7 linked regions of the Homo sapiens genome follow. The protein of the gene in region 1 purifies or fractionates together with the protein of each later gene. This does not show direct contact. Each region holds a gene or a part of one and is shown in the gene's direction. Other genes may lie near its edges. The genes, in order: BLMH, TKFC, ARG1, GTF2A1, SERPINB12, SETD7 and PES1.

Region 1 (3,500 bases):
CACAGTGGAGCAACCAAAGGAGAAATCTCGGCCACACAGGACGTCATGATGGAGGAGGTAATAACAAAATTTGGATTTTTTTGTGACCCCTCTAAGGAACTCTCAGAATATTCCCATCTGTTAAAGTAATGATTAGGAAGCTTTAGTCATGGCAACGAATGTTTAATTGAATTGAAAATTACTTATTTTACACTGAAAAAACTGAGCTTAAAACTTACTTTGCCTTTTAGTGTAGGACTTGGACTTGGATTTTCTAATTCGTAGTTTAGTGGTCTGTATAATCATTCTTTTATCATTTCATAAATATTAAATACCTTCTATGAGTTTGGCACTGAGGAAACAGATGAGAAAGACATAGTCACTGCTCTTAAAGAGCTCAGTCTCTTGGGAAAAAGAAAACACATCTATAATGATGATAAATCCTATGCTAGATGTGTAAAAACTGATTTGGTGGTCATAGAGGAGGGAGTGACTAGCTCAGTGAGCTGAAGCTTTCATAGGGAAGATAGCTCTTGAAAGAGTAGTCAGAATTTACCAGGTAGATAACAAGACCATTCTAGGCAAAAGGAATTGTATGAACAGTGCCATAAACAAAGATAGAACCTTCAGGGAATCATGTGGCTGAAACATAACTTTTTTCAGTATGATGGGTAGCAAATTAAGCTAGAAAGGCAGAGATGTAAGGGATGTTGGATCGATGCCAGAACATTTGGCTTCTTTCTGTAGAAATAAAGACGGAGCTATTGATGGTTATATTTGTTAATGTATGTAAAAACATTTTAGAAAATGTAAAAAGCACTAAAATATGAGGTGGTAATATTATTTATGATCAAGACAGTTAAGAAACTTTATTATTAATACTATCCATGTCCAGAATGAATATGCATAAAACTGCAATTGGTTTGAGGAAAGAATAAATGTTTCCGTTTGTCAGCCAGTAGGCCCTTTATTAGGCTTCCTTTCAAGACTGTATGGAGTTAAAATGGCCTACTTTTTTTCACTGCGATGGAAAACACTAATGCTTCACTTGTGTTTTCCTTTAAATCTTAGAGATGCAGCATAGTGGAGCAGTGGAGTGTGTAATCTCTGAAGTCAGGCTATCTGAGCTCTAGTCTTCTCATTACTTTATATCCTGGGACAAGTTCCTTAAGCTCTAAAGGCTCAGTTCATATTTAACATGTCTAGCCTAGTGCTTGGCACAATAGCTGTTTCTTAAGTATTTGTTGAGTGGACGAATGCAGAAATTTCATTTACCAAATGCATTTAAATAATCTCATTTTTATCTCTTAAATTCTTACAGAAGAGAGGCATCTTAGTATAGTAGGAAAAAATAGGCTTTGGAGTCAGACATACATGGGTTTAAATTCTGACTCTTTTACTTAACAGTCTGTGATCCTAGGTAAGTTACTTAACCTGTCTGAGATTCAGTCAGGATCTGAAATATTTTCCTTATTGGATTTTTGGGGAATCAAGGATTAAATGTAAGCATGCAAGGCATAGTGCCTGGCACGTAGCAGGAGTTCTGTAAATGTTACTTCTTCCCTTCTTGCTTGGAATGACTGTCTTGCAGAGGCTATATCTGCTACATAATTTGCCTTTATTTAGGGTTAGATTAAGATGGTGGGGGCCAGGCACGGTGGCTCATGCCTGCAGTCTCAGCACTTTGGGAGGCCAAGGTGGGCGGATCATAAGGTCAGGAGATCAAGACCATCCTGACCAACATGGTGAAACCCCGTCTCTACTAAAATACAAATAATTAGCTGGGCGTGGTGGTATGCGCCTGTAGTCCCAGCTACTCGGGAGGCTGAGGCAGGGGAATCACTTGAACCCAGGAGGCAGAGCTTGCAGTGAGCCGAGATTGTGCCACTGTACTCCAGCCTGGTGACAGAGTGAGACTCCGTCTCCAAAAAAAAAAAAAAAAAAAAAGATGGAGGTATAGTAGGAATGAAGGTTCTGCAAACAGTTGTGGAAAAGGGCCCAGATAATACTTGCTGTAGATAATAAGCATCCTTTTGGCTTTTGATGTTTGCTTTAATGATCTTTGAACTAATGATGTGTCTAAGATTGATGTCCTCATCATTGGTAGAGCGTGGTAATTGGCTGGTAAGAATTAGGGCAGATATGTTTCACATATTTTTTTCCTCCCCTACTCCTGCCTCAGAGAAATAGTAGATCCAACTTTACCAAATCCTGAGTATGAATGTTTTATAGGATTATTTACTTAATGATTCTACCTAAACTATTTACTACAGAATTCTGTGTGTAAGGGTTTTTTCCCCCTTAGAGACAGAGTCTTGCTTTGTTGCCCAAGCTGGAGTGCAGAGGCGCAGTCATAGCTTACTGTAACTTTCAACTCCTGGGCTCAAATGCTGCTTCAGCCACCCAAGTAGCTGGGACTACAGGTGCATGCCACCATGCCCAGCTCATTTATTAAAAAAATTGTGTAGAGATTCAGTCTCACTATATTTCCCAGGCCGATCTCCACCACCTGGGCTCAAGCAGTCCTCCCACCTTAGCCTCCCAAAGATTGTGCATATTATAAAGTGTGAGCCGCCATACCTGGCCCTGTGTATAAGGTTTTAAAATTTTTACAATCCCCCAAATGACTTCTTTTCATTGAACCTGACTCTTTGGTAATGAAGAGTCTAGCTGCAGTTTTAAAGCCCCAAATTAGTACCTATGATTTGTGTAACCTTGTAGGCAAGTCAAAATGATGGCTTAATCAACAGCCGTGAAGCTCAGATAGCTTTGAATAAAATGTGTTTATGCTAAAGGCATTCTTACTGAGAAGTGAGACGCAGGCTGCTTGTTGAGATGACAGGCAAGGCAGATCTGTTTTGGAGATGTGTAGTTACCTCTATTGCAATGTTATCTCAGTGTCCATTTTTTTAGCCTGCGGATCCCCTTAAGATTATTAATGTATTCTCAGTTGGGCGCAGTGGCTCATGCCTATAATCCCAGCACTTTGGGAGGTCAAGGCAGATGGATCACTTGAGGCCAGGAGTTCAAGACCAGCCTGGCCAACATGGCAAAACCCCGTCTCTACTAAAATACGAAAAAAACATCTGGGCATAGTGGTGCATGCCTATAATGCCAGCTGCTTGGGCAGCTGAGACACAAGAATCACCGGAACCCTGCAGGTGGTGGAGACCAAAATTGTGCCACTGCAGTCCAGCCTGGGTGACAGAGCAAGGCTCTGTCTCAAAAAAAAAAAAAAAAAAAAAACCTTGTCTGTTAAAAAGCAAAACATAGCCAGGCATGGTGGTAACACTTGTAGTGCCAGCTACTTGGGAGGCTAAGGCAGATCACTTGAGTCCAGAAACCCAGGAGTTCAAGTGCTACCTGGGCAACCTAGTGAGACCTCATTTCTAAAATCAATCGATCAGTCAATCAAAGACCAAAACCAATATTTGTCAGTGCCACAAAAAGGGAAAAGAAGCCTTTATGATTGACTTAGGAAATTCTATAGCAGTGGCTGTCAGCTATTGAAAACAATATAT
Region 2 (3,257 bases), on another chromosome or scaffold:
GGACATCTCCCTCCCGACCTCAGAGCCCCAGCTTCCAAGGTCCTTGCTTTTCTGTTGTTTTCTTTCCCTGATGCCCATTTTTCCCTTTTGGACTGCCACACTCTGGTATTGCAGAGGGCCGCGGGGTGAAGATTGCCCGTGCCCTGGTGGGCACCTTCATGTCAGCACTGGAGATGCCTGGCATTTCTCTCACCCTCCTGCTGGTGGATGAGCCTCTCCTGAAACTGATAGGTGAGACTTGGAACCTGGGGTCACCCAAGCCAGGGCTCCTTGTAACTGGAAGGAGCCAGGGAGACTTGGAGACCCCGTCAGGGCTGACCGTGACAATCAGGGCTCTGGAGCCTGTGAAGAAGGCTCTTCCTGGGCTTCTCCAGCCTTCTCCAGCTCTCACTGGACTAGAAGGAGTTGGTATTAGGATCCTCCTCAGAGAGGCCTGACCCTTTCCCAGGGACCCTCTCTCCATACCCCTGTATACAGTAGGCACTCAGTCCATGCTTGTCGAGGTGGACTCCCTTCCTCCAGGGCTGCTGAGAAAGCCAGGCCACCAGGGTCAGGATGGGAGGGTCCAAGCCCTGCTGAATCCCTGGCTGGACAGCCGTGTCTAAGAGAGTTATCTTGCTGCCCTTAGATGCTGAAACCACTGCAGCAGCCTGGCCTAACGTGGCTGCAGTCTCCATTACTGGGCGGAAGCGGAGCCGGGTAGCCCCTGCCGAGCCCCAGGAGGCCCCTGATTCCACTGCTGCAGGAGGTACCAACCCCTGCCTTTGGGGAAGGGACAGGCTTCCCAAAGGATGCAGGAGTATACGGTGGGGCGGGTAGGGGCCCTGGCACCCACACCTCCCACCATAGTCAAGTGTGGTTGTGAGAAGGGCCTGGTGGGCCTGTTCTTCAGCATCCTCCCTTTCTAGGCTCAGCCTCGAAGCGGATGGCGCTGGTGCTGGAACGGGTGTGCAGCACTCTCCTGGGCCTGGAGGAACACCTGAATGCCCTGGACCGGGCTGCTGGTGACGGCGACTGTGGCACCACCCACAGCCGTGCGGCCAGAGGTTGGTGCCAGGGACTTTGCCAAGTGAGGTCATTCACAAAACCTTAGCCCCCCTTCCACTTGTTTCCCTGAAGGCAGGGACCTTCCTTTTTTTTTTTTTTTTTTTTTAAGAAGGAATCTCACTCTGTCGCTAGGCTGGAGTATGCAATGGTGTGATCTCGGCTCACTGCAGTCTCCGCCCCCCGGGTTCAAGTGATTTTCCTGCCTCAGCCTCCTGACTAGCTGAGATAACAGGCATGCGCCACCACGCCTGGCTAATTGTTGTGTTTTTAGTGGAGACGGGGTCTCGCCATGTTGGCCAGGCTGGTCTCTAACTCCCCACCTCAAGCCATCCGCTCGCCCTGGCCTCCCAAAGTGCTGAGATTACAGGCATGAGCCACCACACCCGGCCGACAGGGACCTTCTTAACACCACAAATGTATGAGGTTGTTATCTTAGAATTAAATGAAATCCTTCACAGTGAATAACTTACAACTCAAGGCGAACTTATTCTGTTGTCCTTATTTTTCTCAGTTTACCCAGACCAGTGAAAAGCTCTTAACTGTCCAGCATCATTCATTCGAGAAAAAGGTATTTGGTGCCTGCCGTGGGGCAGGCACTGCTCTCAGCTGTGGATACAGTAGTGAACAGAGCAGACAGAAATCACTGCCCTCATGGCTTATGTTCTAGGTGGAAGACAGTCAACCAGATAAATCAGTAAAACACAGAGGATGTTAGCACAAAGGGCTAAGGAGAAAAAAACCAAGCCAGGGAGCAGAGTACAGAGCGTCAAGTGGAGGGCTTCGGGGCAGGCCTCACCTCCCCAGGCCCCTTTCGGTTACGCAGCCCAGCCCCTCTCCAGACTGCACACTGGATGTGGAAAGGGATCTTGGGAAGCCTTCATTCCACTTCCCTGTCGGCCTTTTCCAGCCTTCATTGGTGCTGGCTGGAAGTCTGGCAGATGGAGGGAGGATCTCTGAATTCCTCCCCATCTCTCTCTGCCTGCAGCAATCCAGGAGTGGCTGAAGGAGGGCCCACCCCCTGCCAGCCCTGCCCAGCTGCTCTCCAAGTTGTCTGTCCTGCTCCTGGAGAAGATGGGAGGCTCATCTGGGGCGGTGGGTGCCTGGGGGCTGAAGGGCTGACAGGGAGGTGGCTGGGCTGGCTGGGGTCCAGGCCAGCACCACATGCTCAGCGTTGTCATCTTCCCCAGCTCTATGGCCTGTTCCTGACTGCGGCTGCACAGCCCCTGAAGGCCAAGACCAGCCTCCCAGCCTGGTCTGCTGCCATGGATGCCGGCCTGGAAGCCATGCAGAAGTGAGCCAGAGCCCTGTGCATCAGACCAGGGGTGGGCTGGGGGAGGTGTTTGGTGACATCTGCGCCCTGCCAGGCCCTAGCCCAACCCTCAGAGTGATTCCCTTGGTTCCCTATAGTGAGCCTCTTTCACTCTCTTTCCCTGCCAGGTATGGCAAGGCTGCTCCAGGGGACAGGACTATGGTATGTACTCAGGCTGTGGCCTCAGACCTTTCTCCTTTTGGCCCTGTAAGTCTAAAGAGCACCCTCGGTTGCAGGGCCCGTGCTCAGCCCCCTTTCCTTCACCTTGTCCAGCTGGATTCTCTGTGGGCAGCGGGGCAGGAGCTCCAAGCCTGGAAGAGCCCAGGAGCTGATCTGTTACAAGTCCTGACCAAAGCAGTCAAGGTGAGTGAGGCTGGGCCCAGCCACCTGGGGAGACAGGCTTCTAGCCAGCAGACTCCTGTCTCCATGTGACCCTGAGCAAGTTAATAACCTTCCTGGACCGCAGTTTCCTTCTCTGTACAATGGAGATGAGCACCTATCTCAGAAGGTGGTTATGTGGCTAAGGAAATATGTAGAGCCCCGCACACTGCCTGGGATGTGACAGGGCCTCAGTGAATGGTGACCCTTTTCCCTGCTGGAAGTAGATGAGAAGTGACTTTCCATTTGGTGACAGAGCAGAGGGTGCTGGCAGAGCCAGGGCAAGGGCGTGCAGGGCCAGGCTGCACGGCAGAGACGTTCTGCCCATGGCAGGAAGGAGGCGGCCTGGTGATCTGCCCTTGAACCTGCTCCCACACCCCATCCCCCAGAGTGCCGAAGCTGCAGCCGAGGCCACCAAGAATATGGAAGCTGGAGCCGGAAGAGCCAGTTATATCAGCTCAGCACGGCTGGAGCAGCCAGACCCCGGGGCGGTGGCAGCTGCTGCCATCCTCCGGGCCATCTT
Region 3 (4,051 bases), on another chromosome or scaffold:
AAAAGGTAGGAAACCTATTTGGAAAACAGTCCTATCAAAATGGACCCATGAGACTTTGGTTTCCTCATTTATCCATTCAATAAATATTTATTGAGTGCCTATTATACACCAACACTCTTCTAGGCCCTGGGGATACAGCAGACAAAATTCTCTGACCTCATGGAATTTAAATTCCAAAATGTTCTTTCCCACCAATAGGAAAAAGAAATTAGTTTCTACTAAGTGAATTTTCCCTTTAAATTACAATTACATAATTTTAAAGTCGGAAGGATCTTTAAGGTGCCTTTATTTTAAATTCATACTTTTGTATGGTGACAAATGGTAGCTCAGGGGCATAGAGGTTGACACCTTCCCAGCATTTAGACTATAAGCTCGACGGTTAAGTGGATTCAGAATGGCAGAGACTAAATCCCGACTTTTCTTCTACAGCCTATGTTGGCAACGGGTCTGAGCTTCAGTTTATTCATCAGTATAATGGCACCAATGATGAGACTTCACATAAAATTGGTATAAATATAAATATGGTATTTTGAAACAGAACTGCATCGGACACATGGTAAAAACTCAATGTTAGCTATTTTTATTTCTATACTTTGATTATGATATGATTCTACAATTATTTTCCTGTACACCATACTTCAAAAATGGTAACCTCTCTGGGTTACCAATCAAGTAACTAATTTTTTAAAGTAATCATCAAAAAAGGAAGTTATATACTCTTTATTATATTATACCCTAAAAGTTTATGAAATGTGTCTCATGGATTAACCATTTACCCTCATGTGTGAAATCTCAACTCAGGATTTTAGGGCTGGAAGGGATGTGACAGACGATCTTGCCAAGCCCGGCCCTTCTTCTACAAGGACGTCTTCAGAGATCTGGAGGAGGAAAGGGCCTTGCCCTGAGTTCGCTGAGCCAGAACAATAGGACTTCTTCTGTAGTTGTGAAACTTGTCAGTTGTTGAAGTCAGGTTAATGTCATCTGGCTGGCTTTTTAAAAGGGTGTGAAGTGAGAACATGAATAATTGTCACTTGATTAGAGACCTAGACTCAGAGTTAGGTTACTCCATGTATGAAGTAACCCCATATAGTTACTTCATACATGGAGTAACCATATAGTTACTCCATGTATGAAAAATTGCAAGACTGTTGACTGTCATTCTTTGGTTTAGTGGGTGGAGCCAGCTGTCCTCATTAGATAAAGGTTGTTTATTCAACCCAAGTATAAATGGAAAAAAAAGATGCGCCCTCTGTCACTGAGGGTTGACTGACTGGAGAGCTCAAGTGCAGCAAAGAGAAGTGTCAGAGCATGAGCGCCAAGTCCAGAACCATAGGGATTATTGGAGCTCCTTTCTCAAAGGGACAGGTAAGGAAAAAAGTCTTTCTTTGAATTCCTGGAATTTAGTTGAAAATTTTGGACTTCAAAATTTGTAAGGTGTTATTGTCTAGTTAGTTCAGTTTTCTGATACAATCTGGCCAGGAAATGCATATTTTAAAGTCCTCTCACCATTTTCCAACATTGTATAATTATAGTCACATATCCACTTACTTTTGTGGCTCGTGATCTCAGCCAAGGCTAAATTCATTTGAACCTACAGAATGTTTTCTCATATTTTTTAGGAGAAAATATTTTTCTTTGAATTGAAATGGACTCTTTCTGCATTGTAGCTACTCATTGAGGTTTAGTTGCTCTTGTTGTTTTTGATGTTACTGTGTGTATGTAGAGGAAGAGAGAATTTTAAGAAATACATTTGTTTAGTTATGTAATTAATGCCTAGAAAAATTTAATAGTTTGGTGGTAACCTTCAGGCTTCTTATAATTTGGATAACCTAAATATTATTGTTTCATGCAACTTTGTGAATAATTCATGTTATGTTAGGGTTTTAATGTTTCTATGAAACTGTTCATTCATGGACTAGGTAGAATCCTTTATGTGCCTCACTTGGAAGGGGAAAAAAAGAACAAAAAAAGAAAGAAAATCCTACTGCGGGTTGGCAACTCTAAAAGGATTTTAATGGATTTATGAAACCCCCAGATTTCCTTACAGCCACGAGCTGTGAATCCACACATGCCAGCAACATTGAATACACTTTTTTTTCTGCCTGGGCACACTTATTCTAGTAAAGAGAGTGTGATGACAGAACACCTTAGACTTCAACACGCATCTGTGCTTAAAGAGGATAAAAAACAAAGAACAAAATCAAACAAGACAATGTATGAGTTGAAACTACTAAGGTTGATTTTCTCCAGGTTTCTCAGGATCTGGGCAGCGTTTTGCTTCCTCTTAATTTGGAACCCTTGCTGTGTACTCTGACTTTTTACTGCAAAACAAATTGAGAGAGGCCAGAGGTTAGAGGCCCAAACTGCATTTGGACTGTCAGTAAATACTACTTTGCTTCCCCTGGAAATCCTCCAAAAGTCTCTCCCAAACACAGGGACATTTTGCTGACACAGAAATGTTCCTTTTAAAATCCACACTGTTCTCACCCACTCTTGAACAGGTTATAATAAATATATAATTTAAAAACCTCACAAAAGGGAAGCAAGTGTCCTCCTTCTACCACCCTCCTCCCATTAAAACATGGTCATGAGAATGGAGTTCATTGTCTCATGATTGTAAGGACTAAGAGAGAGAGATTTTTTACACTAAGTCATAGAGTAGAGAGGATAAAATGGCCAACATATAAGTATTTGTCCTCACCTAAAGGAGGTACAAGTTTGACAAATAAGCAAAAGGAAAGGATTAGAGGGCAGATGACTAAAATGTTGAGTCTGAGAAAGGGCTTCATCCCTGTCTCACCTCCTTGAAAGGCTTGCAAGGCAGCGAACAAACAATAAGGTAGGTATTATTTTTACCTTACAGTTGGGTTAAAAAAAAGCCCAGAGAGGTTTGGTAATGTGCTCAACGTCACACAGCCTTGACTGCATAATTCCAGACAAGATAATCTGATTCCAATGCCTATGCCCTTGATTTGCACTGATGTCTCTTCAGACTATTCAACTCCAAAGGCGACCTTATACTTGTGGCCATTTAGGGATTGGGCCCAGCTTAGAAAGTCGGTGGAGCTGACAAAGCAATTTCCAAAGTGGGCAGATAGAGCAAGCAAGAGGAAAGCCCAATCATGAGAAGCCATTTGAATAAAACAAATAAAAAAGAATTCTAGAAAATTTAATGGCTGTGTTATAGCAAATATAGTGTCAACTAAGGGGTCTATGAGCTTTGTTCTAAAATATGAAAGGGAGAAGGGTAAAAAAGCCAAGGAGTTTTATCAAACTGAGTATTGAGTATCTACTATATGTCAGCTCTACACTACAAAATATAGTGCCCCACATGTAAAGCAAGCTGGACTGAAATCTAACAATGAGGAAAAGACAAAAACAGACACAAAACTAAAGGCAAAACATGAACCAAGCAGCACCCTATTGGGGTTGAAAGAAGGAGAAATCATGTTTACTTGATTGGGGAGAGGCAGGTGTGTCAAGCAAAAAGGGAGTAAAGAAGCAAAATGTGTCAGGCAGAGGATAGGGCGGGTCCCTTGCTGCCAGGGACAGGAATTTAACATCAAGGATTTGCCTGGCACCCAGGGCAAGTCTTCTGTTCCTTTGAATGGGGAAAAAATACTTGCTTACTTTGATGCCACAGCCCCAATCCTAAAGATAGACACACGTGTCTTTTAACACATTGTCTCATCTGACAACATGTAATAATCTTCTGCATCTAAAAGCTCTGTTGGAAATTAAAATCAGAAAGATACAGAAAGGAACTGTGCCTTTAGACCTCTAATTGTTCAGGGGACTGAGGAAGACTTGCCCCTTGGAGGAAGAGTGTTAGTTTCCCTAATGTCAAAACGGCAAGGGTAGAACTTCCCATCATACTGTTAAGCAGGCCAAAACTTGAAATTACTGGGTTGGTCTTTGTTTGTAGTTTTCAGCTCCCAGATGATGACTTTTTCTGTTGCCTGCTTTCTCCCCAAGAGCTCTAGCTTACTTATGTGAGTACATGCACGTAGGTCTCTTTCATGTCACACTCTTTCGATGCTTTTGCCCAATC
Region 4 (3,500 bases), on another chromosome or scaffold:
GTAGGTCTTTGGAGAAAATGACATTTTAGCAAAGACTTGGAAAGAGTTAGCCCTGTCATCTGGTGGCAGAGTCTGTTGTATGTGAGGAACAGCAAGGAGGCCTGTGTGGCTAGACTGGAGTGAGGGAAGAGGAGAGTACAGTAGTAGGTAGAGAGGTAAGGGAAGGCAGATAGTAAGGATTTTGTAAGGACATGGCTCTTACTCTTAAGTGAATCAGAAAGTTATTGGAAGGTTTCAGTGAGACAAATGGTATGAACTGATTTAAATTTTGAAAGGATTACTTTGCTTTCTTTGTAGAGAGCATAATATGAGGAGGAAGCAGAGGTTGCTGAAACGAGACTATTTAGGGGGATATTATAATAATTCACATGGGAGATAATGATGACTCGGCCTATGGTGATGGTATTAAAGTTGGTGAGAAGTAGTTGGATTTTGGATTTGTTTTGAAGGAAGAATGTTAACAGCATTTCCTGACTCTGAGATTTGTGGTAGAAAAGAAAAAGGAATCAAGAATGACTCTTGAGATTTTTTGATGAGGATTCTGAAAGAAGGATGGTGATACCATCAGTTCAGATGAGGAAAAGCTGCATGTGGAGCTGGTTGGACATGCCAAGTCTGGTATGTCCGTTAGACATTCAAGTCATCAATCTTAAGATGCTACATTTAGCATTTATGTAGTGTATTTAGACCAGAGATATAATTAGTTCTTAATCCAACAGTCTTTACCCTACCTGCTGTTTTACCTTTATTGTGCTTTGTTTTGCTTTAATAAGTAAGCAAAGTTTGAATCCAGAAGAAGAACATGAGAGTAGTTTCCAAATAAGATGAAGGTTGTTTGATTGAGTGATTTTTTTTTTTTAAGTCTCAAAAAGCAGAGCTAGGATCAATAAATGGAAGTTGGAGAAGCAGATTTCCGTAAGGGTAAACTCTGAAAGATTTTACAAGAGAGCTGTTCCAAAAAGGAATAACTTAATTTGAAATTCTTTGCTCACTGTTTCTAATCGTATTTAAGCAGACACTGCACAACCATTTGCCAGGAATATGTCATGAAGAATGTTTGCACTGGGAGGTTAGGCCATGGAATTTTAGGAATGAGATCTCAGAAAATATCTGTACCTGGCCGGGTGCAGTGGCTCACGCCTGTAATCCCAGCACTTTGGGAGGCCGAGGTGGGGGATCACCTGAGGTCAAGAGTTCAAGACCAGCCTGGCCAGCCTGGTGAAACCCATCTCTACAAAAATACAAAAATTAGCTGGGCGTGATGGTGAGTGCCTGTAATCCCAGCTACTCAGGAGGCTGAGGCAGGAGAATCACTTGAACCTGGGAGGGGGAGGTTGCAGTGAGCCAAGATCGTGCCATTGCACTCCAGCCTGGATAACAGAGTGAGACTCTGTCTCAAAGAAAAAAAAGAAAAAGAAAATATCTATACCTGTTGAGCATTTCTGCATTATTATATGAAACAGACTGATTTAGTAAAAGCGTACTGGACCAAGACTTGAAAATCATGATTGTCACTTAGTAGCAGTATACACTTGGTCAAACCATTGAACCCTATCCAATCTGTCATTTCTTCTTCTGAAAATGAAAGCCTGAACTAGTTGATTTTTTTTTTTTTTTAGGTACCTTTAGATCATAGAATAGGGAGAACCAGGGGGCCTTCTTTGCAGAAGATGTGGAACTTGAACATTAAATAATTAGTGTGACTTACTGGGAAAAGGAAGAAAGGTCACTTCAGTTCATTAAGTTTTACAACTCCTCTCCCCCACCAAATCCATGGAATTACAAACAACTACGGACTATAAGTGAAGGCAAAGATGGGAGTGCCCAGAGCCTGCCCTTCAGCTCTTTTTGTTTAACTGTGGATGTACATAGTTTTTGAAATCTGGTGTAAGTGACTGGATGATTAGCATCCTTTAGATGTATTTTTAAAATACTGCTATGTATAAGGTTCCATGGTAGTTAGGTCTTGAGAACTCTATAAGGAGTTTTATTTTGGTAGAAGAAATGAGTCCATAATTGTATTACTTACAAATAATGTAAGAAATGTCAATGAAAATACCATTGGGAATTTAACAGTGGAAAAGAATAGTTTTAGCTGGTAAGATTTGGGAAAGCTTTGTGGAGGATAGTCTTTTTGAGGTAGACCTTGAAAATATATATGCAAACCTGGTAGAGAGATAAGACATTTTGTAAAGAAATATTTTTTAACTACTTTAATGAACACAAGTACTAAAAGCTATAAAATAGTACTAATTACAGATAAATTTGTTTTTAGACCCACCTAGTGAGTTTTGTGTGTGGTTTTTTTGTTGTTGTTGTTCTTTTTGGTGAAATTAAACTTTATTAAGAAACCAATTTTTAGGCCAGGTGCTGTGACTCACGCTTGTAATCCCAACACTTTGGGAGGCTGAGATAGAAGGATCACGTGAGGCCAGGAGCTCGAGCCCAGCCTGCACAACATAGGAGACCCTTCTTCTACAAAAACAAACCAATTTGCAAATACAATACTGTAAATACTGTTTTGTGGGGGGGTGTGTGTGTACGTGTGTGTGTGTATGGGTTTTTTGTTACTTGTTTTCTCTGTTTTCTGATTGTATCTCTCAATTTTTAAAATGTTGTTTTTGTTTAGATACACAGAAGTAAAAACAAATGGAAATTTCATCTCAAGGATGGCATTATGAATCTTAATGGAAGAGATTATATATTTTCCAAAGCCATTGGAGATGCAGAATGGTGAAGAGTTGCTTTTTTTCTTTTATAAATAAAAGAAACTTAAAAAAAATGTAAAGCGGACAGTTTGAAACTTGGGGCATATGCCAACCAAAACTTCGTTTCTGCATGTCAGAAAAGTGCAGTAGAAGCAAAGCTACTGGAACAAAGATAGACCTTGACAACATAGACACTACTTACTGGCAAGCCATGGAACTGTAGCACCTAGGGTTTTTGGGTGGGAGGGTTGGGGTTTTGTGTAGGAAAACCATAATTGTTGATTTTAAATACAGGTACCTGCCACCGGTAATTAGCATGTAAAGCTTTGTCTATATTCCTTCCTCCAACTTGGGTTCAATCAGAAGATACTTGTTGGAATGAACTGAAGAAACTTCCCTTTTGATAGATTGAACTGAAACTGCTTATTGTATGTGGTTATATTTGGTAAAAGTTGCGTGTGAGCTTTTTACAAAAGGGTAAGAATTGTGTTGAATTTTAATTCACTTGTATAAGAAAACAATTTAAAACTCTCATAATAGGTCTTAAATATTTTTACTTGCTATTCTCCCTCAGTGATATATACCTCTTCCTTTCCAGCTTTATGAAACATCTATTTAAGATTTAAAGTTATCAGTGATCATAGTTTGGAGATAAAATTTGACCCAGGAATGAATATTTATTTTAATTAGGTTTTCATACTTATTAAATGTAATTAAAGACTTGGGTCTTGTCTGAGTTCAGTGGAATTGAAACCACAACTTTAATTTCCTTACAGAAAAACTTAATTTGTT
Region 5 (3,500 bases), on another chromosome or scaffold:
TTTCTCTTTTCTTTTTAATTGCAACAACATAACATAACATGATTTTTACTAACAGTCTAAGCTTATTTTTAATAAATAAAAGCAATGTTAAAAAGCTTTAAAGTATTTTTAAAGTGTTATATTTTAAAATTGCCTATTTGAATCTGTGTTATTAGCATAATCAAATCTTAATGAGTGCTTCCTACAAAATACTCTTTTCCCTTTTCTATTTCATTTTGTAAATTAATATCTTACTCTTCTATGCGTCTTAAACTCTACTCCTGAATCTGCGAATGCATTATCTGCTCTGTTAGGTCATAGATTTCTCAAAGGCAGAGATTGTGTCTTGTTCAGTTCATCTTTTATATATAGTGACTAACCCAGTGGGAGAACTTCATAATTAGGTTGGTGTCAGATTTAGGCAGTTTCTAATTTAAAAAAACTGACTCACCCCCACCCCCCAAAATAACCAAGCAACCCTTCAGAAGGTGGTTAGCAGATGACATTTTAATCTAGTCATTAAATGTTCATTATTTGCTATGTTTTAGACTTGTATGTAAAGCCAGGAAAGATCTTCCTATTGTAAGGGCTTACATATAGTCATAAAACTTTAACAGCAACTGTCCAGCTGTTTTTTTTTCGTTGTTTTCTGTTACTATTGTTCTCTCAACTCCCTTGGGAGGTGAGGCAGCATTAAAGCTGCACACAACTGTAATGAAAGCTTAGAACCAGGTAACACTCAGAAAAGGGAATTGTTACTGGGGTGAGAGCATCACAGTACTCCTGGAAAGTAGTTCACAAAGTTTATAGAAGCTTGATGCAGAAACAGGCAGAGAGAGTTTTGGAGTGTTCTGTAGCCCACAGAGTGAGTAAGTGTAGTGCCAGAATTAGAATGGAATGGAATGTGAAAAACTGTGTGATCTAGGAGGAAGCAGCCCTAGGCATGAGGAAGTCTTAGCCTTGCTTTGCTTCTGGACAGCTGCATGATTGTTGCAAGTCACTTCGCCTCATTTGGCCTCAGTTTTTTTTATCTTGAGAAGTAGGGAGTTGGCCTGCATGAGTAGTCATGTCCTTTCTAAAGCAGGCAAGACTCTGATCATTCAGTTCTGGGAGTGCTCATGCTAGAAGGCAGAAGGGGTGAAGCCAAGTGATTAACTGGAACATTTGAAGAGCCAGGTTGGGATCATTCAGTCTTTCTAACCAACCCCTTCTTTTCCTTCAATATAGTCAGGCTCTTGTCTTCTTTTAATAGTGATGGCCAAATTGCCAGGATTCCCTTTACCTTCTCCTCCTTCGAGCTGAAGATTTTGATCAAACATTAACCTAAGTTATACAACAAAGGTTTTAAAAAATATTAGACTACATTTCACACAAAATTTTATCATTAATCGAAAGCCTGTGAAATCCCCCCAACTCAGACCATCTTTAATTTGTTGGTTTTCTTTTCTTTGTTAGTAGACTTGTTACTAGATGGGTAATGTGAGCTATGTGTAGAGAAAATCTGTTGGACATCAAGATGTTTACCAACATATGCAAAGGTAGCTTTCTGAGTTGTGAGGCATTATTGAATTTCCAGATACATCCAGGACATCCATTACTCAAAAAACACCCACCAATTAAGGCATAATGCTCCTGAAAACACTCTGGTGATCTATGATTACCCTGAAATTAGTTTGAAAATACAAAGTACGTCTCAAACCCAGTTCCCAGATGCAAGATAAGAACTGTGAGTTAGGTACAAACTTGGCAGAAAGAAAATGTAGCAATAAAATGGACTATAAGCTGAATAAGGGGGGAGAGTACCCACATACAGCAGGCATGTGTTTGATCACCTATCATCAGTTGAGGGGCAACTTAGAAACGATAGATACAGTAGAAAGATTACTTAGTTTGGGGCCAAATATATGTGCTATTTGATTATGCAGTTTTCTTTTCTGAAAAAGAAGGAATGATCATATCTACCTTGCAGAGTTGTAGGATTAAAGCTAACACATGTAAGATATTTGGCACATGTTAGACACATTTTTTAAAAAGTTACATAATGTTATCTTTTTGAATTAGGTTTTATAGGCTAAGAAAATCTATATTAACTGGGAAAGTGTTAAAACAAATTACACCATTCCATTCAATGCAGCAATATTTCTTCATGCTTATGGTGTGCTGTATCTGATGATAAAAGCACAAATAAGAGGATTTACATTTCTATCTTGGAAATACACAATATCTATAGGCAAAGAGACAAAAGAAAAGGCATTTCATTTGAAAGGCATAGGTCAGTGGTGAGATCTACATATTCTCTTGATACTCTGGAATAGATTGGGTGGGGAAGGCAAGATACCTGTTCTTAGGAAGTCACTATCTCACTCTGGTTCTATATTATCTGTAGTTCTACACTGTCAAAGAGGACATTGAACCTGGTGATATGGTTTGGCTCTGTGTCCCTACTCAAATCTCATCACACATTGTGATCCCCATAATCTCCACGTGTTGAGGGAGAGACCTGGTGGGAGGTGATTGGATCATGGAGGAAGTTTCCCCCATGCTGTTCTTGTGATAGTGAGTGAATTCTCATGAGATCTGATGGTTTTATAAGTGTTTGGCAGTTCCTCCTTTTCTCTCTCTCTCTCCTGCCGCCTAATGAAGAAGGTACTTGTTTCTCCTTCTCCTTCCGCCATGATTGTAAGTTTCCTGAGGCTTCCCCAGCCATGCGGAACTGTGAGTCAATTAAAACTCTTTCCTTTATAAATGACACAGTCTCTGGTATTCTTTGTAGCAGTGTGAAAATGGACTAGTACACCTGGTGACATCAAGACCCCCAGCATCATTCAAGATTTATTGTCTCTTGAACAATATGAATGACTGACTAAAGTGCCTCAAATTCTGTAGTTTGCATGTGGGATGAGTCAAAAGGGGGTGAGAATGTTAACAAGGCACATGACCCATGGGAATTTGCTGGGCATATCCTCAGTCACAGAGCAATGAGGGGAGAGTACAGGCAAAAGGTGTAAGCAGAACCAGCCACAATCTGTGGAGAAGAATGAGATGGGATGATGTTTGCTTGGCTGCTAACTTGATAATAAGAATGTTAGCCTTTGGCTTCATTTTACGTGAATACAGGGAGTTCCACCACAAAGTGGGTAGGATTATGTCCCCTAAAAATATAGTTTAAGTCCTAATCCTTCTACCTGTGAATATGACCTTGTTTGGAAATAGGGTCTTTGCAGATGTGGTCAAATTAAGATGAGGTTGTACTGGCTTAGGATGGGCTCTAATTCAGTGACTGCTGTCTTTAAAAGAAGAGGGAAATTTGGATACATACATGGACAATAAAGAGAAGGATGTGAAGATGGAGGCAGAGACTTGAGTGATTTGTCTACAAGTCAAGGAATGTCAAAGTTTGCTGGCAACCACCACAAGCTGAGAGAGAGGCATGAAACAGATTTTCCTTGAGAGTCTTGAAATGAACCAAATCTGCTGATATCTTGATTTTGGACGTTTGTCCCCCAGAACCATGGGAGAAT
Region 6 (3,500 bases), on another chromosome or scaffold:
TCTCTGTCAGGGTATGATTGTAACTCTGGGAAAGTTCTGAACTCAGAGTGGACAATTCCCTGAGGTGAGGGGAGTGGCGGAGGCTGTGTCGAGAGAGTGTTCTGTGTACTGTGTTGGCTGTGCTCTTGTGGGAAGAAGGCAGCAAGCCCTGGGCCTCAGAGGACCTCAGAGCTCCACCTGAGCTCTGGTGTGGCTTTTGGAAAACACTTTGAGACACACTGGTTCAGTGAAGAGTGATGTTTAGTTTTCCAGTGTTATTCCCCTGGGCATCTGGAAACAGAAATTTATCACAGCATCTATTTCTTTGTCTACCCATAGATACAAAGATGAATATGATGTGGTCTCTAATATGATTTCAAATAAATATATCTATACAGATGAATTGTGATGGTTGAGAGGAAGTAAAAATTAGTTCCAGCTTAGGGAAGTCAAAGGGGAAAGATTTTCCAGAAGAGGTGCCATAGAGCTGAGTCAGGTTGAGAGGGGAACTTTGTGAGTGAAGACACGGAGGCATGGAATTCTGCGGGTGCACCCAGAGAACAGTCATTTGATTTTGCTGCAACATGGAGCTTACAAGGAGAAAAGTGGAGGGGAAGACAGGGAAAGGAGGCTGGGTAGCAGGCTGAGAGCATGGACTGTGTGCTGGAAGCCATGGAAGCCGTGGGGGCTCTTTAGAAAAGGGAATGACAGGATCAAGGCTCCACTCCGGGAAGAGGAACAGGCAGTGGCCAGCAGGACAGTCAGAGGGGCTGACACAGCAGATGAGGTACCTTGAAGTCTCTTTGCAGTGGTCCAGATGCACAGTTATGATGGCAGGAAAAACAGAAGGGCCTGGAAATGTGTAGGAGACATGGAGGAAGAATGATCAAAAAGGGGAAATATCAGAACAAGGGGCCAGAATGAAAATAAGCAGCTCAGTGTTCCACTGCCACAACCCCTTCAAAATATTAAGAATATTTTTTATTAACACTCCCCCTAATATCAGATTCTACTTGTCTCTGCTAAGAGTGCTCATGCCCTGTATCTAGGGAAAATGCATATGAAGTGTATTTGTAGCACCCTTTCTGTGTGGGCCACACATTAAAATCATGACCCTCACAATTAATAGATGAACCCTTGCCAACAATTACCCTTAAAAAAAATTATCCAGGTAACAAACTTTCATATGTACCCCCGGATCTAAAATAAAAGTTGAAATAATTTTTTAAAAACCTAAAAAATTAAAAAATTTTAAAAAGATCAAAACATCAAGTTATGTTTTTAAGAGTTGGTGATTGAATGCATCACCAGGAGGGCATGTTCTTTGCATTAAACAGAATAAGCTTGCCTTTTATTATTGTTGTTTTTTGTTTTTCAATTTATTTATTTATTTAATGAGATGGGGTCTCACTGTATTGCCCAGACTGGTCTCCTGGGCTCAAGAGATCCACCTTGGCTTCCCAAAGTGCTGGGATTACAGGCATGAGCCACCGCGCCCGGCCTATTAATTGTTGTTTTTTAAAGCAATGTTCTAGTGTACAAAACCAACAGTGTGTGCGTAGGGTCTCTGGTTCTAAGGGAAATACTCACACGCCACTCTCAGATCTCTTGTGAGTAAGCCTGAGACATTAAGCAGCTGGGTGTCTGATCCAGAGGGAATTTACTTTGCTGAGATTGAGATGTACATTGCTGCTTAGAATATAGGCCTGGCTCTTATCAGATTCAGGAAGAAGCTCCCTCAGAAGTAACTAGAGGGGAAAATTGTAACTTTCTATCTGTTCAATAGATAATGACCATAGAATAAAGTGAAAAAGTAGACTTGTGAACTGATACTTTTTTCCTTTCTCTAACTTCTGTAAATATTTAAAATCATGCTACAGACAGATACACAGAACATTAGCTCCGGCAACCTTAAAAACACAGAGCAGTCATTCAAGTTAATTTTCCCTGTTGCTTGGGCCTGGTATTCACCCTCTGTTCAGTGGGAACTCGCCTGGAAGGCTGTTGGCTGACTTGGCGCATTTTACAAATTGACCTCATGCAGAGCAAGGAGGACTAGTGTTTCCCTTCAAGTTAGATAACACTTGGAAGAGATAGGACTTTGCAACCGGGACATGCTGTTGGAAACCTGGTGGTTCTGTGTGAATGATCTTAACCACAAAGCCTTCTTCCACTTCCCTGCCAGGGACCTGGGGGTTCCTACCTTTTTAGAGGTACCTTCTTACCATCACCAAGGAAGAGTGTGTTCAACTAGTTTGCCAGTGTCTAGAATGGGAATTAAAGGATTTGGAGAAGGGGCTTTCAGTATTCATCAGCACACTCAGTGTGGCAATGTCTCTTGGGCAAGTCTCATAAAGCATTGGTGTCTTCATCTGTAAGATGAGAATATGGGAGACTGTTTTGAGGCTTACATTTGATAACAGGAAAGCATATAACCCAATGCCGATCATAGTAGATTCATACACTTTTTTTCTCCTCTGTTTATCAGTACCCCTGTGCATTAAATTGACTTACTGACATGACAAAATATTACATGATCTTATTGTCCAAATATTAATGATCTTATTGGCATTTGAAAAAGTTATGTCAGATTCTGTTCTAGCACTAATGTTGAAAGAAGATGTAAGAGCACTGCAACCTAGTCTCTTCTCTTTCTCATGGAAAGTCTCTGTTATTGTTTTGGTTGTGGCTGCTGTTTTAGACATAAAGTTCTACTGCTAGGAAAACTAATCCGGGATATTAAATATTCAGAGTGGAAGTCTCGAATGATCACAACCCTTAATCTCTAGTTCCTTTAATTGATCACACCCTAGGGATGTAAAGAAAACAAAACAAGCCAGGAAGAGGCTCCTGCTGTCGTCGAATAGATTTCAGAATTCTCTCACAACCAGCAATCTAAAAGCCTTCAGAATGATAGGGAGTGGTCACATGTCCAAGCACCTCCTTAATGTGCAAGGTCACCAGAGTAATGGCCATCATTTGGTAGCTCTCCCCTGACCTTGTCTCTCCCAAGAGATTAAGATGATGATAGGGCTCCTCTTCATTTGCCTGTTGAAAGGCACTGAGGCCAGGTGTGGTGGTTCTTGCCTGTAATCCCAGCACCCAAAGTGGGTGGACCACTTGAGCTCAGGAGTTTGAGACCAGCCTGGGCAACACAGTGAGACCCTATCTCTATAAAAAAAAATTTTTAATTAGCCGTTTTGGAGGCTGAGGTGGGTAGATTGCCTGAGGTCAGAAGTTCGAGACCAGCCTGGCCAATATAGTGAAACCTCATCTCTACTAAAAATACAAAAAAATAAGCTGGGCTTGGTGGCAGGTGCCTGTAATCCCAGCTACTAGGGAGGCTGAGGCAGGACAATTGCTTGCACCCGGGAGGCGGAGGTTGCAGTGAGCCAAGATCGCACCATTGCACTCCAGTCTGGACAAAAAGAGTAAAACTCTGTCTCAAAAAAAAATTTTTTTTTTTAAATTAGCCAGTTGTGGTGATGTCTACCTATAGTCCCAGCTACATTGGAGGCTGA
Region 7 (2,893 bases), on another chromosome or scaffold:
GTCTGGCACTGACTTCCAGGATGCGTCTAACCCTTGGGACCCCTATCCAGAGCCTCACTTGTGGCTGGGAACACTTGTGGCCGGAACGCCCCTGGTGGGAAGATCCATGCCACCCCTTCCCTAGGGCAGCGCCTTAAGGGCAGAGCCTTCTTGAGGAGCTTGGGGTCTTTGGGTAGGTCAGACACCCTCCACTCTGTGGGTTGTCTGTCCCTCCTTTGCCCCCATCCCTGCACCCACACTGCTCATGCATCTCTTGTGTTCCCCAGCACCCGACAGACGTGGACTACAGGGTCATGGCCACCTTCACCGAGTTCTACACCACGCTGCTGGGCTTTGTCAACTTCCGCCTTTACCAGTTGCTCAACCTCCACTATCCCCCGAAGGTAGGACCCCAGCCCAGTGCCTTCTGCTCGCCGTGCAGGGGCCACAGCCCTTCTCTGTCCACACAGAGGCGAGGGGCTGTGGCTGTCCTCTGCCTCCTGACCTTCCCTTTGCCTACTAGCTCGAGGGTCAGGCCCAAGCAGAGGCAAAGGCCGGTGAGGGCACCTACGCGTTGGACTCCGAGAGTTGTATGGAGGTGAGAGGCTCCAGGAGCATCATCCGGCATCTCCCAAGGGAGTGGTCTCTGTCCCCAACACCTCTGGGGGTCTGGTTCAGAGTGGGGGTGGTTATGGCTAGGTGGGTGGTCTCAGCCTGCCCTTGGAACCCACACCTGCTGATGCCCAGGACTGTCACTGCTGCCCCTCCCCACCCTGGCCACATGCCCGCATGAGGTCCCCCACTGCAAGCAGCCCCCTTCTCTCCTGTAGAAACTGGCAGCCCTCAGTGCCAGCCTGGCCCGCGTGGTGGTGCCTGCCACAGAGGAGGAGGCCGAGGTGGATGAGTTTCCCACCGATGGGGTGAGCACTGCACTGCCTTCTGGCAGGAGGGCTGGGAGGGGTCGTGTGGGGGGTTTCCCAGCTTAGGGACATTTGCATCCTATAATTAGGTGTTATTTGATGGTCAAAGCAACTGAGCAGAAGAATGGGCTGAATTGTCATCAGAGTTTACATAGGAGGCAACAGAGCTCAGGAGTGGGGCCTTGGAGTTTCCTTTGAAGGCAGGATCCAGGATCTAGAAGGAAGCTGGAGTGGACGTTATCTCCAGCCCTGGCCCTCCAGTGGGGGTGGGCAGCCCTGGTGGTGCGAGGCCTGGCCCCTTTCTCAACAGGAGATGTCAGCGCAGGAGGAAGACCGCAGGAAGGAGCTGGAGGCGCAGGAGAAGCACAAGAAGCTTTTTGAGGGCCTGAAGTTCTTCCTGAACCGAGAGGTGCCCCGTGAGGCCCTGGCCTTCATCATCAGGTAGGGAGGCTCAAGGGCCCGCTGACAGCATTGGTTCGGCCATGCTCTGGTCTGGGTCCTGCCCTGGTGCCCATCGGTAACATTGGGATGGTGTCAGTTTCCACTTCTTATGAAACAGTGTGTGGAAAGTGCTCGGCACCGCACTGAGCACATAGGAAGTGCTCAGCAGAGGGCGGAACTGCCGTCATTTTATTACTAGCTTAGCACAGAAGGATGGGCAGTGGGCAGATCTCTGCTGAGCCAGGATTGAAGGATCCTGGGGTGAGGAGGGGGTAATTGTGTCCTAAGAGGGTGAGTTTATGGGCTGGGTGGCCAGCAGGTCCCAGGGAGCTGAGTCTCAGGACAGGCAGCTCATGTCTGTGTACCCGTGTGGGCTCTCCCTGTCCCTGTAGGAGTTTTGGTGGGGAAGTGTCCTGGGACAAATCTTTGTGCATTGGGGCCACCTATGACGTCACAGACTCCCGCATCACCCATCAGATTGTCGACCGGCCTGGGCAGCAGACCTCAGTCATTGGCAGGTAGGCCCTCAAGGGTCCTCGTCCGGATTTCTGGGTATCCTGTCTCAAAGGCCCTGCGATGCAGCAGGACCCTGAGTTGCCCTCTGTGACTCGTTTTTGCCTGCCACTCTGCGCCAGGTGCTACGTGCAGCCCCAGTGGGTGTTTGACTCAGTGAACGCCAGGCTCCTTCTCCCCGTGGCAGAGTACTTCTCTGGGGTGCAGCTGCCCCCACACCTTTCACCCTTTGTGACCGAGAAGGAAGGAGATTACGTTCCACCTGAGAAGCTGAAGCTGCTGGCTCTGCAGCGGGGAGAGGACCCAGGTGAGCGGGATGGGACTGGGCTGGCCTTGACCCCTGGGCCCACGCTGGCTGTTTCCCTTAGCTGCCAAGGTGGAAAGCTCCAGGGAACAGGCAGTAGGAGCAGAAAGCCCTTTGAAGTCACCTGTAGAATAAGGCTTAGGAGAAGGGACATCTACCTCCTGGGGTCAGGTGTTATTTGACGTTCAGGATGACTGAGCAGAAGAACATGCTGCATTGTCATCAGAGTTTACATTGGAGGCGACAGAGCTCAGGACTGGGGGTCTTGGAATTTCCTCTGATGGCAGCTGGGCTGTGGGGAGGTGCAAGAGAGGGCCACAATTGGGACATCCCTGAACTGCCCATGGCTAAAGACGGCAGGGTCAGAGAGGATGGGGCCTGGGCCTGTTGTCACCCTGCCAGAGAGACAGTAGATTCCCAGGGCATTCAGAGGACATTGGCTTTCTCTAGGAAACCTGAATGAGTCAGAAGAGGAGGAGGAAGAGGACGACAACAACGAAGGTGATGGTGATGAAGAGGGAGAAAATGAGGAGGAGGAGGAAGATGCAGAGGCTGGTTCAGAAAAGGAGGAAGAGGCCCGGCTGGCAGCCCTGGAAGAGCAGAGGATGGAGGGGAAGGTAGGGGGAGCTGCAATGCGGGGCTTGGCCTGGGAAGCAGCCCTGCTTGGTGCCTGCTCTGGCCTAGAAGGTCAGGAGCCAGAGGACTGTGGAGGTCGGGAGAACCTGCCCCCATAAGC

Evidence for each region.
Region 2: the proteins of BLMH (region 1) and TKFC purify together in Homo sapiens (affinity purification with mass spectrometry; one large-scale study listed by BioGRID and IntAct). This does not show direct contact.
Region 3: the proteins of BLMH (region 1) and ARG1 purify together in Homo sapiens (affinity purification with mass spectrometry, with the first as the bait; one large-scale study listed by BioGRID). This does not show direct contact.
Region 4: the proteins of BLMH (region 1) and GTF2A1 fractionate together in Homo sapiens (co-fractionation; one large-scale study listed by BioGRID). This does not show direct contact.
Region 5: the proteins of BLMH (region 1) and SERPINB12 purify together in Homo sapiens (affinity purification with mass spectrometry, with the first as the bait; one large-scale study listed by BioGRID). This does not show direct contact.
Region 6: the proteins of BLMH (region 1) and SETD7 purify together in Homo sapiens (affinity purification with mass spectrometry; one large-scale study listed by BioGRID and IntAct). This does not show direct contact.
Region 7: the proteins of BLMH (region 1) and PES1 fractionate together in Homo sapiens (co-fractionation; one large-scale study listed by BioGRID). This does not show direct contact.

The regions. Positions count from the first base shown.
Region 1 is NC_000017.11:30,281,945-30,285,444, reverse strand, and holds part of BLMH (bleomycin hydrolase), read left to right. Parts: coding exon 1-57; intron 58-3,500. UniProt on the Homo sapiens protein: The normal physiological role of BLM hydrolase is unknown, but it catalyzes the inactivation of the antitumor drug BLM (a glycopeptide) by hydrolyzing the carboxamide bond of its B-aminoalaninamide moiety thus protecting normal and malignant cells from BLM toxicity.
Region 2 is NC_000011.10:61,343,228-61,346,484, forward strand, and holds part of TKFC (triokinase/FMN cyclase), read left to right. Parts: intron 1-114; coding exon 115-231; intron 232-628; coding exon 629-748; intron 749-908; coding exon 909-1,046; intron 1,047-2,032; coding exon 2,033-2,139; intron 2,140-2,234; coding exon 2,235-2,338; intron 2,339-2,484; coding exon 2,485-2,518; intron 2,519-2,629; coding exon 2,630-2,719; intron 2,720-3,067; coding exon of another isoform or gene 3,068-3,097; exon of another isoform or gene 3,098-3,123; coding exon 3,124-3,257.
Region 3 is NC_000006.12:131,571,975-131,576,025, forward strand, and holds the start of ARG1 (arginase-1), read left to right. Parts: upstream 1-1,251; 5' UTR 1,252-1,308; coding exon 1,309-1,365; intron 1,366-1,991; exon of another isoform or gene 1,992-2,318; coding exon of another isoform or gene 2,319-2,321; intron 2,322-4,051. UniProt on the Homo sapiens protein: Key element of the urea cycle converting L-arginine to urea and L-ornithine, which is further metabolized into metabolites proline and polyamides that drive collagen synthesis and bioenergetic pathways critical for cell proliferation, respectively; the urea cycle takes place primarily in the liver and, to a lesser extent, in the kidneys.
Region 4 is NC_000014.9:81,179,460-81,182,959, reverse strand, and holds part of GTF2A1 (transcription initiation factor IIA subunit 1), read left to right. Parts: intron 1-2,629; coding exon 2,630-2,737; 3' UTR 2,738-3,500. UniProt on the Homo sapiens protein: TFIIA is a component of the transcription machinery of RNA polymerase II and plays an important role in transcriptional activation. TFIIA in a complex with TBP mediates transcriptional activity.
Region 5 is NC_000018.10:63,552,369-63,555,868, forward strand, and holds part of SERPINB12 (serpin B12), read left to right. Parts: intron 1-3,500. UniProt on the Homo sapiens protein: Inhibits trypsin and plasmin, but not thrombin, coagulation factor Xa, or urokinase-type plasminogen activator. May play a role in cell differentiation.
Region 6 is NC_000004.12:139,549,720-139,553,219, reverse strand, and holds part of SETD7 (histone-lysine N-methyltransferase SETD7), read left to right. Parts: intron 1-3,500. UniProt on the Homo sapiens protein: Histone methyltransferase that specifically monomethylates 'Lys-4' of histone H3. H3 'Lys-4' methylation represents a specific tag for epigenetic transcriptional activation.
Region 7 is NC_000022.11:30,579,018-30,581,910, reverse strand, and holds part of PES1 (pescadillo homolog), read left to right. Parts: intron 1-266; coding exon 267-383; intron 384-502; coding exon 503-577; intron 578-809; coding exon 810-899; intron 900-1,209; coding exon 1,210-1,340; intron 1,341-1,732; coding exon 1,733-1,858; intron 1,859-1,975; coding exon 1,976-2,160; intron 2,161-2,607; coding exon 2,608-2,774; intron 2,775-2,893. UniProt on the Homo sapiens protein: Component of the PeBoW complex, which is required for maturation of 28S and 5.8S ribosomal RNAs and formation of the 60S ribosome.